Linked DNA regions of Homo sapiens: region 2 is reported to be linked to region 1. Evidence: microRNA targets listed by miRTarBase, many of them from high-throughput screens and not tested one by one. Region 1 holds a microRNA gene; the other region holds the end of a gene's coding sequence. Distances are from middle to middle.

Region 1 (5,506 bases):
CCCTCTGTAATAAAAGAGATTTGACACTAGTCTCCAGGCCCATGTGACTTTTGGCCTGATGTGGGACCAGACTGGGGTCCCTGGGAGGATGGGCATCACTAAGGCAAGAGGCACTTGGTACTAAGCTAAGGGTGGGGGTTTGGGGCAGGGGTGAACAAGCAAAGTCCACCTGGGATTTTCAGGAGCTGGGAGCTTCAGGTGAGCTGTGGGCCCTTCTCCATCACCTCTCCCAAGATACTGGACTGCCCAAACACCCTGGTAGGATCTTGAGAGTCCAGGCCTCATCTGCCAGGCTGTAGTGTCCAACACTGTTTGGTCCAGTGATGGTTTAATGACAACACTCAAGGACAGTCCAGACCAACCAATAGAGGCAAGGGGGTGGCCTTGGGATTCACACAGGCTCGACTGTAGAGTAACTAAATCATAACACAGAGATGAATGATAATGTTAAGTGGACTCAGCAAAGGGAGACAGGGAAAAAAACCACATCTGGAAGGTCTCAGTTCACTGTGGGACCTTCTGAAGATGAGAAACAGCTACAGCACCAAAATTTAGGAAGCATTCAGTAGAGTGGCTGTGCTACACCTGGGGCTAACCCTGCCTACACAGGGATGTAGGTCACACCTACCCAGTATCCCACAGGGTACCCAACAAGCCTCTAGTGTGTACATCCTTTGCCCTGGGTGACCCTCCCCATACCCAGAAAGGGCAAGGAGGCAGTCTTCCCCACTCCCTAGGCATCCATACACATGGGCTTCGATAGGTGGGGGACAAGACCCCCCTCCCTTGTGCCACCAGTGCTTGATAAGGCTGACTAGTAGATACAGTCAATAAACCAGGCCCCAGGACCACAGTCCCCCAACCAGCCAACGCCTGAGGAACTGGTGAAGTTTTTATTAAATCCACAGAAGTAAAAACCATATCGTGAGGAACTGGGGGATGGGGCCACCAGGGAGTGGGAGTCAGGCCACCAGGGGAGTGGGGATGGGGTGACAGGACAGAGAACAGAGCCAGGCTGGGCTGGCCATGGGGGCTCCAGCCTCAGGGGCCATCACCAGGGCCACCAGACAGCTCCTGGGAACTCAGGCCAGCACCAGGCAGGCTCATCGGCGGGGGCTCCACCAGCACAGCAGAGAACTTGGTGTCACCGAAGGCCTCGTTCATGCGCGTCTCGAAGAAGCGCTGCAGGCCGATGATGGACTGCACGTCTGCCTTGTCCTGGGCCAAGCAGGAATGCAGTGGATGAATGGGTCCTAGTTCTTTCCTTCACATCTCCCCCTGCCCACAGCCTCTCCATTCCACTGGCTCACCTCAGTTAACTTGTTGAATTGCTTGAACATGCGGCCCACATCCTGGGCAAACTCCTGTGGGGAGCTGTAGGGAGGTGACAACTTCTCCTGGAGGCGGGCACGGATCAGGGTCAGATCCAGGGTGCCACCGGGCTGGTCCTGCAGGCAGAGATCACACATACACACACAAAGACACACATATACATGCACAGGTTGAGGGCGAGACCCAGCAGCCACCACCCCCTTCCCCTTTCCCATCCTAGGACTCACCAGGGAGAAGGTGGAGTCGGTAGCCAGCTGATGCAGGGGGCGGCAGGGTTCGTGACAGAATAGGGCCAGCAGTACACGCTCACATTTCTACAAACATTGTAAGGGATGTCACAGCTCTGGGCAGCACCTATAAAGCCTCTCTGGGCAACCCCACCTAAGTAACCCCAGCCCTCACCCGCTGGTTGGCTGGTGAGAGCTTGGCCACCACGCCAGTGCTGTCTGCACCATCCAGGCTGAGGCTGCCATCCTCCTCCTTCAGGTCAGGGAGCACATGGCAGAGTGAGCAGCTCCACTCCTCCCTAGGGTGAAGAAAATAAGGGTCTGCACATGATCCTGTCCAGACAGCCCAACACCCAGACTTGACCCCCACCAGCCTCACACTCACCCTGGTACATCCTGCAGGGCCGGCAGGTGACAGTCCAGGTGGAAACAAAACTCACACTGGTTGCACATAACCAGATCGCCTGGCTTCTGGCAGACACGGCAAATGGTGGCACTGTCATCCAGGGTTCCCGGGCCACCACCTGGGGCTGAGGTACCCTCAGGAGCCACCACCTCCAGCCCTGAGCTGGTGCTGCCACTAGGTGAGGCCAGGCGGGGACCCTCAGCACCAGGACCCTCCGCAAGAGCCATAAGCACAGGTTTGGTCTCAGGGCCCTCAGTGGCAGTAGGAGGGGCTCCAATGGCAGCCTCCGTCTCCTCCTCCTGCAAGGTGGTGATGAGGGGTGTTCAACAGGGTCCAGACCTGGACTACAGGCTTCATCCTACAGCTATAGTTCCTTGGGACAGGCTTACCTTGACAATGGCCATGCCAGCCAGGGGTGGGGCACCAGGGGTTCCTGCAGGCGCAGTCCCTGGCTGGCCGGTAGCTGCAGCGGCAGCGCCACGTTCAATAACAATAAGGTTGTAGTCCTCAGTGGTACTGCCTGGGAAGACCTTGAAGACGGGTGGCTGGCTGTCAGCTGTGAGGTCCAGGTCCAGGCGTTCAAGGCTCACTCGTGGCACCTTGCGCATAAGGCCGCTCACCTCGCCCTCACCTGAGCGGGACCTGTAGATGCAGCAACCTGGCATGAGTACACCCCCACCCTCCATCCACCTCACCCCCAGGGGAGGTGCCATACTTACCGTTTCACACCTGACACATGGGGCTCTGCACTTGAGTAGGGATCATCTCCTTAGAAAATGGAGAAAGAAGACTGGCAGGTTGGGGTAGAAACAGCACTGGGGCCCTTCCCCACCCACTAGGCAGACCCACTCACCTGACCCAAAGCCATAGCCTTCCTGCACCTCCATGGGCTGTGAACAAAGCAGAACCCTCTGCCTCAGTGGGACAGGAACCCTACTGGACCCCATTCCCTGCCCACCCCCCCTGCCTGGGTCCTCTCTCCTGCTACTGGACCCCATTCCCTGCCCACCCCTTCCTGGGTCCTCTCTCCTGCTCACCTGGCTGCTGCCAGAGCCCTGCTTGCTCAGGGGCCCTGGGGCTCTTGGAGGGGCCATGGGTGCAGGGCCTGTTGAGTTAGTGCCAGGACGCTCTGCCACAATCTTGCCTGCAAAAAGAAGAGAGAAACGTAAGTAGGTGCAGCACGTGGGGTAATAACAGAGTGAGGTAAAGCTGGGGACCCACCAAAGGCCTCGGCACTCTTGGTCCAGGCATTGAGGTCCCACTGAAACTTCATCTCGCCATGTGGCTCCACGGGATCCACAATCATCTTGAGGGCCCGGTGCAGCTGGAAGTAGATCTGGTTGGGAGTGAAAGGGAGGAAAGAATGAGCACACCAACAACAAATAGGGATTTGAGGTATTGGGAACCACCTGCCTGGAACCCACCAGCCAGGAGCCCACCAGTACACACCAACTTCTTAGAAAGCAAAAGGGCTGTGTTGTTGTCACTCTCCAGAGCCCAAGAGGCAAAGCGCAGAATGTGCTCCTGGTGCTTCTGGATCTTGGTCATGGTCCAGTGCTGCCGCTCCAGGCGCTCCTGCTGCCCCTCAGTCACCTTCTGCAGATAGAAGGTGTATGAGGTAAGCAGAGAAGGCAGAAGAATACTAGGATCACTCCTCACCCCAGACAGCATCATCAATCAGCAGAGGGGGCTCAGGGACCCTTCTCACCGGCACAAGGCTTACCTGGGCATCATTGACCAGCACACGGCCCCGCTTATTCAGCTCCTTCATGATCTGCAGGATGGCCATCTTGACATCCACTTGCACACGCTTCTGTACGTCAGACACCTGGCGGATTCTAGGGGACACAGCAGGTCAGGCTAGGTAGGGTCTTGCTGCCCTGGGCCACCCCCACAGCCCCAGAACCCACACTTACGAGCTGCGAACCTCCTTGGTGCTCTTCTGCAATGTTGCATGTTTGTCCCCAAGGCGCTTCACCAGTGAGGCCAGGAGCTTGCGCTGGTTCCTCACTGCATCCTCTAAGAACTGGTACCTGAGAGCAGACAGATGTGTTCCTGAGCACTAAGCTACGGAAGGGGTGGCACCCACCCACCCAACCACTATGCCTTGGGACTCACTGGTGGTCCTTGTGGGCATTGAGCTGGCAGTCTCGGCAGGTGAGAGTATCACAGCTCTCACAAAACAGCACAAGGGGTTCATGCTTGTGTACGTTGCAATAGACAGTACGTTCACCATCCCGAGACTTGGCTGGCCCTGGGGAGTGGGAATCATAAGGCTGGACCTTGCCCTTCACCACCCCCAACTCAGGAAGCAGAATGAGTTGGGGCCTCATTTCCGGCCTGTTCTGTGACACTGGGCCATTTATTGGGAAGATGTAGAGGGTGTGGCCAGGGAAGAACACAGGCCTGCAAGCCCAACTCCTTGCTCCCAGAATCCTCTGCCCCAACATAGCTGAGAAACACATCCCTTTCTTCTAGCTTCTAGAGATAACAACAATGTAAGGGTAAGGATAACAGCGTCTAGAAAAAGAGGACCACCCCACCCCACCCCCCACCCCCGCTGACCCTTCCCCACACTGTTCCCTTTACTGAACACTTCTCCAAGTGGACATACTCAGAATTCTGCCTACACACCACCCTGGATTCCTTTTCTTCTCCTTTCATGGTTAACTTCCTCCCTCTTCCCTGACAAGAGAACACCAGGGTCTCTTACAATCCAAGGGCCCAGAGGAAACCTTGTAGAGGTTCTCATACTGGGAGAGATGAAATGTCAAACCAGGACCCTCAGAATGGTGGTCACACCCCCTCTAGAGCAGAATCTTGGTGCTCAGCATAATCCCACCCAAAGACCAACCCATTAATAACCTCCAAAGCCTGTCTCCCCATTAGAAAACTGATCAAACACACTGGTCCCACATACCAACCAAATCCAAAATATGTAGCATCAGGGCTCATTGGGGAAACTGACTTCCCCAATGCCACTCATTCCTGCACCCTGACCTTTGCCTGGGACGTCTGGAATGTAGGACACCCTGCAGCCCCTGCGTATCCCTCCTGGCTGCTCAGGCCCCACAGCCACCACCTTCCCGCTATCTTCCACCAATGCTGTCCTCTGGGATGGGAAGAATCACAGTATGGCTACCAAAAGGCCACTCATGGGAGGATTCTGGCCCCAAAACTTGGCTAGACTCAAAAGACTCTCAAGCTCCTTCCAAACCAAAGCTAGCTGTGTCTGTGAAAAGCTGGAAATGCCAAACCAAACTTTGGGTAAGTCTCTGCCAACTCAAAAGCTAAAACACTTCCAAAAATCATCATCACTTATAATCCATGGACCCACAGTCTACTTTCCCTAGCAGCATCTTATACCAGATGTGTGCCAGGGAACCACAAACCCAGAAAGCCCTTCACACCATGCCTTTCCCTGTTTGCATATGCTGAGCCCTTCACCACCAGGTCTGACAACTCCCTGATAAGCCTTCTCAAACCCTTTGTACCTCCCTGCAGCACATTAAGGTCTCCCTTATTTCCCCTTCCCACCCTC
Region 2 (5,225 bases), 37 Mb from region 1:
ACAGTTTGGTGACTAAAAATAAAAACTGTAGACTAAACCTCTCCCACTAAAAAATATATAAAAAATGAGTGAAAAATTTCTCCAAATTGTAAAATCAATATAGAAAAGACATTATTTTTCAAAATTTTAAATCCACTGAAGTCATTTCATTATTTTGTAACCTTTAACACTCACACTTAAAAATAAAAGATTCTGCATGGAAATATAAGTTGTGCTGTAAGTATATCATAGAAAATTAACTTTAAAATTGTTTACTTACCATTAACTCTCTTAAAAATTTAATTTCTGTATTTTCAAGCAAGTTTTATATTTGCCACACTTTGTATAAGAATCTAGTAAGATTTTTCTTTTAAAAACAAAGCTGACTAATTTAATTATCTTACCTGTGGACAGTATTGCACCTTTTATCTTTTTTTTTTTTTTTTAGACAGAATTTCGCTCTTGTTGCCCAGGCTGAAGTGCAGTGGCCCAGTCTCGGCTCACCGCAACCTCTACCTCCCAGGTTCAAGCGATTCTGCTCCCTCGGCCTTCCGAGTAGCTGGGATTACAGGCGTGCGTCACCACGCGTGGCTAAATTTGTATTTTTAGTAGACACAGGGTTTCACCATGTTGGTCAGGCTGGTCTCAAACTCCTGACCTCAAGTGATCCACCCTCCTTGGCCTATCTCAGTGCTGGGATTACAGGCGTGAGCCACACCTGGCTGCCTTTTAACTGTTCTGATAAGCAAACTCTACAGTTAAAACCAATTTTTGTGTGCACTAAAAATACCAACTTCCTCATCAAAATCTACAAAGTACCATGTGAAATGAAATGGCATGAAGACAACAGTAAGAAAACTGTAGCTATAACTCAGAAAAAGAATAGCTGTGATGCATACATAGTTGGAAAATGCATAAGACAAATCTGAAGAGAAGTAGAAAATAAAAGAATTTCTCTTTTTTTTCAGATGGAGTTTCCCTCTTGTCGCCCAGACTGGAGTGCAATGGTGCAATCTCGCCACACTGCAACCTCCACCTGTCGTGTTCAAGCGATTCTCCTGCCTCAGTCTCCCGAGTAGCTGGGATTACAGGCATGCGCCACCACACCGGGCTAATTTTGTATTTTTTAGTAGAGATGGAGTTTCTCCATGTTGGTCACCTGGTCTCAAACTCCCGACCTCAAGTGATTCGCCCACCTTGGCCTCCCAAAGTGCTGGGATTACAGGCGTGAGCCACCACGCCCAGCTCTTTTTTTTTTTTTTTTTTTTTTATATGGAGTCTCGCTCTGTCGCCCAGGCTGTAGTGCAACGGCACAATCTTGGCTTACTCCAATCTTCACCTCCGGGTTCAAGCAATTCTCCTGACTCAGCCTCCCGAGTGGGATTACAGGCACCCACCACCATGCCTGGCTATTTTTGTAGTTTTAGTAGAGACTGGGTTTCACCATATTCATCAGGCTGGTCTCAAACTCCTGACCTCAGGTGATTCATCTGCCTCTGCCAGAATTTCTCTTTAAATTCAACAAGATTCAGTTTTACAGTCTGGAAAAAAAATGTCCTCTCTATATGAACAATCAATCTTCACCATTGATATTTTTCATCTTTGACTTGAAGTTACAAACTAACTTCAGCAGGAATATTTATGAATTATTATGGATAATCTATTACACAGTGAAAACTGTAATATATGTTTGCTACATTTATATATAAAAACATCCTCATGACTAATGAAGCCTCCCTAGTACTTAGCTGAACAAATTGACTCAATAAATATGCTTATGTCAATTATAAAAAGTGAAAGGAACAAATCACTAAAGAAAACCTATATATTGTTCTCCTCTTAAAAGAACAAAATGGAGTGCTCTAACTAAATAAAATGTAACTTAATACACTACTTTTGGAATTACATCTAAAGATTATTTTGTGTGCACTAAATTTCATAAAAATTCTTATAATCGCAGACCAGCTCACATAATGAATACTTCATAAAATATAAAACAAAAAAAATGTAAGAAACAAAAAAAGTATGGGTCTAGCATGAGTACCAGGCAAGTATATACAGAGAATTTGCTTGGGAAGATTCAGAACTCTAAGTCATAGACTGTACAGTAATAAATTCAATACAAACCAAAAAGTATACATTTGCTTTCAGCATTTTTTAGGTTTTTAGTTTTATAGTAGTCACCATATTAAAATGATTTTTGTTCCCGTATCATTCTTTCCTTCTGAAAATATGTACAAACTCATACTCACACACACATACTTAACTCCATAATTTTCTTACACCTAAGATTTGTCTTTAGACTAACATGTATTTAACTCTATATGAATCAAAACTAAAAGTCTGTATATGTTTGCAGGCAGACAGGCCACATGTTCAAAGAAAAATATATAGAAAATTTGAAAATATATTTTACTTTTTGAGATGGAGTCTCGCTCTGTTGCCCAGGCTGGAGTGCAGTGGGGTGATCTTGGCTCATTGCAACCTCCACCTCCCAGGTTCAAGCGATTCTCCTGCCTCAGCCTCCTGAGTAGCTGGGATTACAGGCACATGCCACCACGCCTGGCTAATTTTTGTATTTTTAGTAGAGACGGGATTTCTCCATATTGGCCATGCTGGTCTCGAACTGCTGACCTCAAGATCCACTCCCTCGCTCAGCCTGTCAAAGTGCTGGGATTACAGACGTGAGCCACCACACCTGGCATGAGAAAATATTTATTAAGAATTTAGAAATGAATTTCATTTATACTCGTATATAATTTTTATTATGACGATAAAAATAACACTGTGGTAAATAAAAATTTAATTGTACATTTAAAAATTTTTTTTTAAAGTGTAGAATTGGATTGTTTGTAAAACAAAGGAGAAATGCTACAGATGATGGATGCCTTACTTAACCCTGCTACTATTATATATTGTATTCTCCTATTAAAATATGCTACAGGCTGGGCGTGGTGGCTCAAGCCTGTAATCCCAGCACTTTGGGAGGCTGAGGCGGGCGGATCACATGAGGTCAGGAGTTCAAGACCAGCTTGGCCAATATGGTGAAACCCCATCTCTACTAGAAATACACAAATTAGCTGGGCATGGTGGCTGGCACCTGTTATCCCAGCTACTTGGGATGCTGAGGCAGAAGAGTTGCTTGAAACCAGAAGGCAGAGGTTGTAGTGAGCTGAGATCATGCCAATGCACTCCAGCCTGGGCGAAAGAGTGAAACTCAGTCTCAAAAAACAAACGAACAAACAAACAAAAGAATCTCTCTCTTTGATGTAGCAACAATTAACCCCATGCTTTCACATGTGAATCCAATAGGAATGAAGAAACAACAGGAAATAATTTCAGAGTTGAATGATGACATTATTCAATTTTCAAAAAATCTGTAATATTTTTCAAGAAATAAAGTATACTTTGAATGTAATTATAACTCTGCAAAAAACCTTCTGATCCTCTTAAAGTTCTATACAAATAACTTTTCTACCAACTTTAGTTTCAGATTTTCTATACTTAGCACTCTGATTTAGTATATCTGAAGTGTCAGTACCTTATATATTTCTACCATAAATTCTCTGATATTTGCATAGACTTAATTATGGATTAAATATTTTACTTTTACTGCATCTGGAAAAAATATATTCTAGTATAACTGTTGATTTCTAAGCTGTAGTTTTTGAAAAATTGTTTTTCCAAATTTATTATATTTGCACAATTTTTCAATATAAATTCCCTGATGTTGAACAAAGTTTGATCAACTGCTTCAGAGTTTTCCTCTAGAAGAAAATGTCTACAAAAAGATCTGTGATACAAGTAAAGGCACTACAACCCTTTTTATATTTGTGATGTTCAACTTCAAAATAAATACTCTTCACTAAAAAAGCTTATATTTTCTGAAAGATCTTTTGACAGTAATTGCACTTATAATGCTTTTATTAAGCAGGAACTCTCTGTGTTGAGTAAAATGTGAGCAGATAATGATGGCTTTTTCACAGTCTTTATATTTGTATAATTTATCTCAAGTATAAATGCTTTCCTAGCAATAAAGTGTGAGCATTAAGTTTTGCCATATTGTTCACACATGTAGGCGTTTTCTCCAGTATGAATTATCTTACCTACAATGAAGTGTGACAACCATTTAAAGGCTTTATCTCACTCTTCAGATTTCTAGGATTTCTCACCAGTATAATTACTTTTATGGTTAGAAAAGTTTGAGGCGTTGTCAAAAGTAGTCACATCTTTCTGATTTGTAGAGTTTCTCTCCAGTATAAATTATCTTATGTCTGTTAAGAATTGAGGGCTTCTTAAAGGCTTTGCCATGTTTTTCACACTTGTGGGGTTTTTGTACAGTATAAATTTTTTTTGAGACGGAGTCTCACTCTGTTGCCAAACTGGAGTGCAGTGGTACAATCTTGGCTCACTGCAACTTCCACCTCCCAGGTTCAAGTGATTATCCTGCCTAAGCCTCCCGAGTAGATGGGAATACAGGCACGTGCCACCACACCCAGATAATTTTTGTATTTTTAGTAGAGACAGGGTTTCACCATGTTGGCCAGGATGGTCTCGATCTCTTGACCTTGTGATCCACCCACCTCAGCCTCCCAAAATGCTGGGAGCCATTTTGCATAAGCCACCGCACCCGGCCAATATTTAATGCTTAGTAAGAGTTGAGGACTGCTTAAAGGCTTTCCCACATTCTTGACATTTGTAGAGTTTCTCTCCAGTATGAATTATTTTGTTTAATAAGGTTTGAGGACTGGTTAAATGTATTGTCACATTCTTCACAGTTGTAGGGTTTCTGTCTAGTATGAATTTTCCTATGTTTAGTAAGAGTTGAGGATTGGTTAAAGGCTTTACCACATTCTTCACATTTGTAAGATTTCTCTCCTGTATGAATTATCTTATGTTTAGTAAGATTTGAGGATCGGTTAAAAGCTTTGCCACATTCTTCACATTTGTAGGGTTTCTCTCCAGTGTGAATTCTCTTATGTGTAGTAAGGATTGATGACTGGCTAAAAGCTTTGCCACATTCTTCACATTTGTAAGGTTTCTCTCCAGTATGAATTATCTTATGTGCAGTAAGTTGTGGGGACCGGTTAAAAGCTTTGCCACATTCTTCACATTTGTAGGGTTTCTCTCCAGTATGAATCATCTTATGTGTAGTAAGGTTTGAGGACTCATTAAAGGCTTTGCCACACACTTCACATTTGTAGGGTTTCTCTCCAGTATGAATTCTTTTATGTTTAGTAAGGGTT

The links. The annotated mature microRNA hsa-miR-6807-5p reads GUGAGCCAGUGGAAUGGAGAGG and lies in region 1 at 1,289-1,310, opposite strand. An mRNA with a match to its seed (bases 2 to 7 or 8) in the 3' UTR can be bound and repressed. Matches are read on the target gene's strand: a 7mer-m8 pairs with bases 2 to 8, a 7mer-A1 pairs with bases 2 to 7 and ends in A, and an 8mer does both.
Region 2: miRTarBase lists ZNF431 as a target of hsa-miR-6807-5p. Seed matches in the 3' UTR shown: 7mer-m8 at 2,665-2,671, 7mer-m8 at 1,208-1,214 and 7mer-m8 at 688-694.

Annotation. Positions count from the first base shown.
Region 1 is chr19:58,546,089-58,551,594 of GRCh38, reverse strand. It overlaps MIR6807 (microRNA 6807), which reads right to left and starts at 1,310; the gene lies at 1,219-1,310. It overlaps TRIM28 (tripartite motif containing 28), which reads right to left. Exons shown (of 17, transcript NM_005762.3): 4 at 4,084-4,219; 5 at 3,882-3,998; 6 at 3,689-3,803; 7 at 3,415-3,561; 8 at 3,187-3,301; 9 at 3,003-3,109; 10 at 2,819-2,855; 11 at 2,685-2,733; 12 at 2,355-2,607; 13 at 1,945-2,264; 14 at 1,735-1,858; 15 at 1,560-1,646; 16 at 1,311-1,448; 17 at 880-1,218. The coding sequence ends at 1,042. CHMP2A (charged multivesicular body protein 2A) reads left to right here. Exons shown (of 6, transcript NM_014453.4): 6 at 1-29.
Region 2 is chr19:21,183,458-21,188,682 of GRCh38, reverse strand. ZNF431 (zinc finger protein 431) reads right to left here. Exons shown (of 5, transcript NM_133473.4): 5 at 1-5,225. The coding sequence ends at 4,649. It also overlaps the pseudogene VN1R82P. Among named protein-coding and RNA genes, the nearest start is that of ZNF431, 44 kb to the right of the region's middle.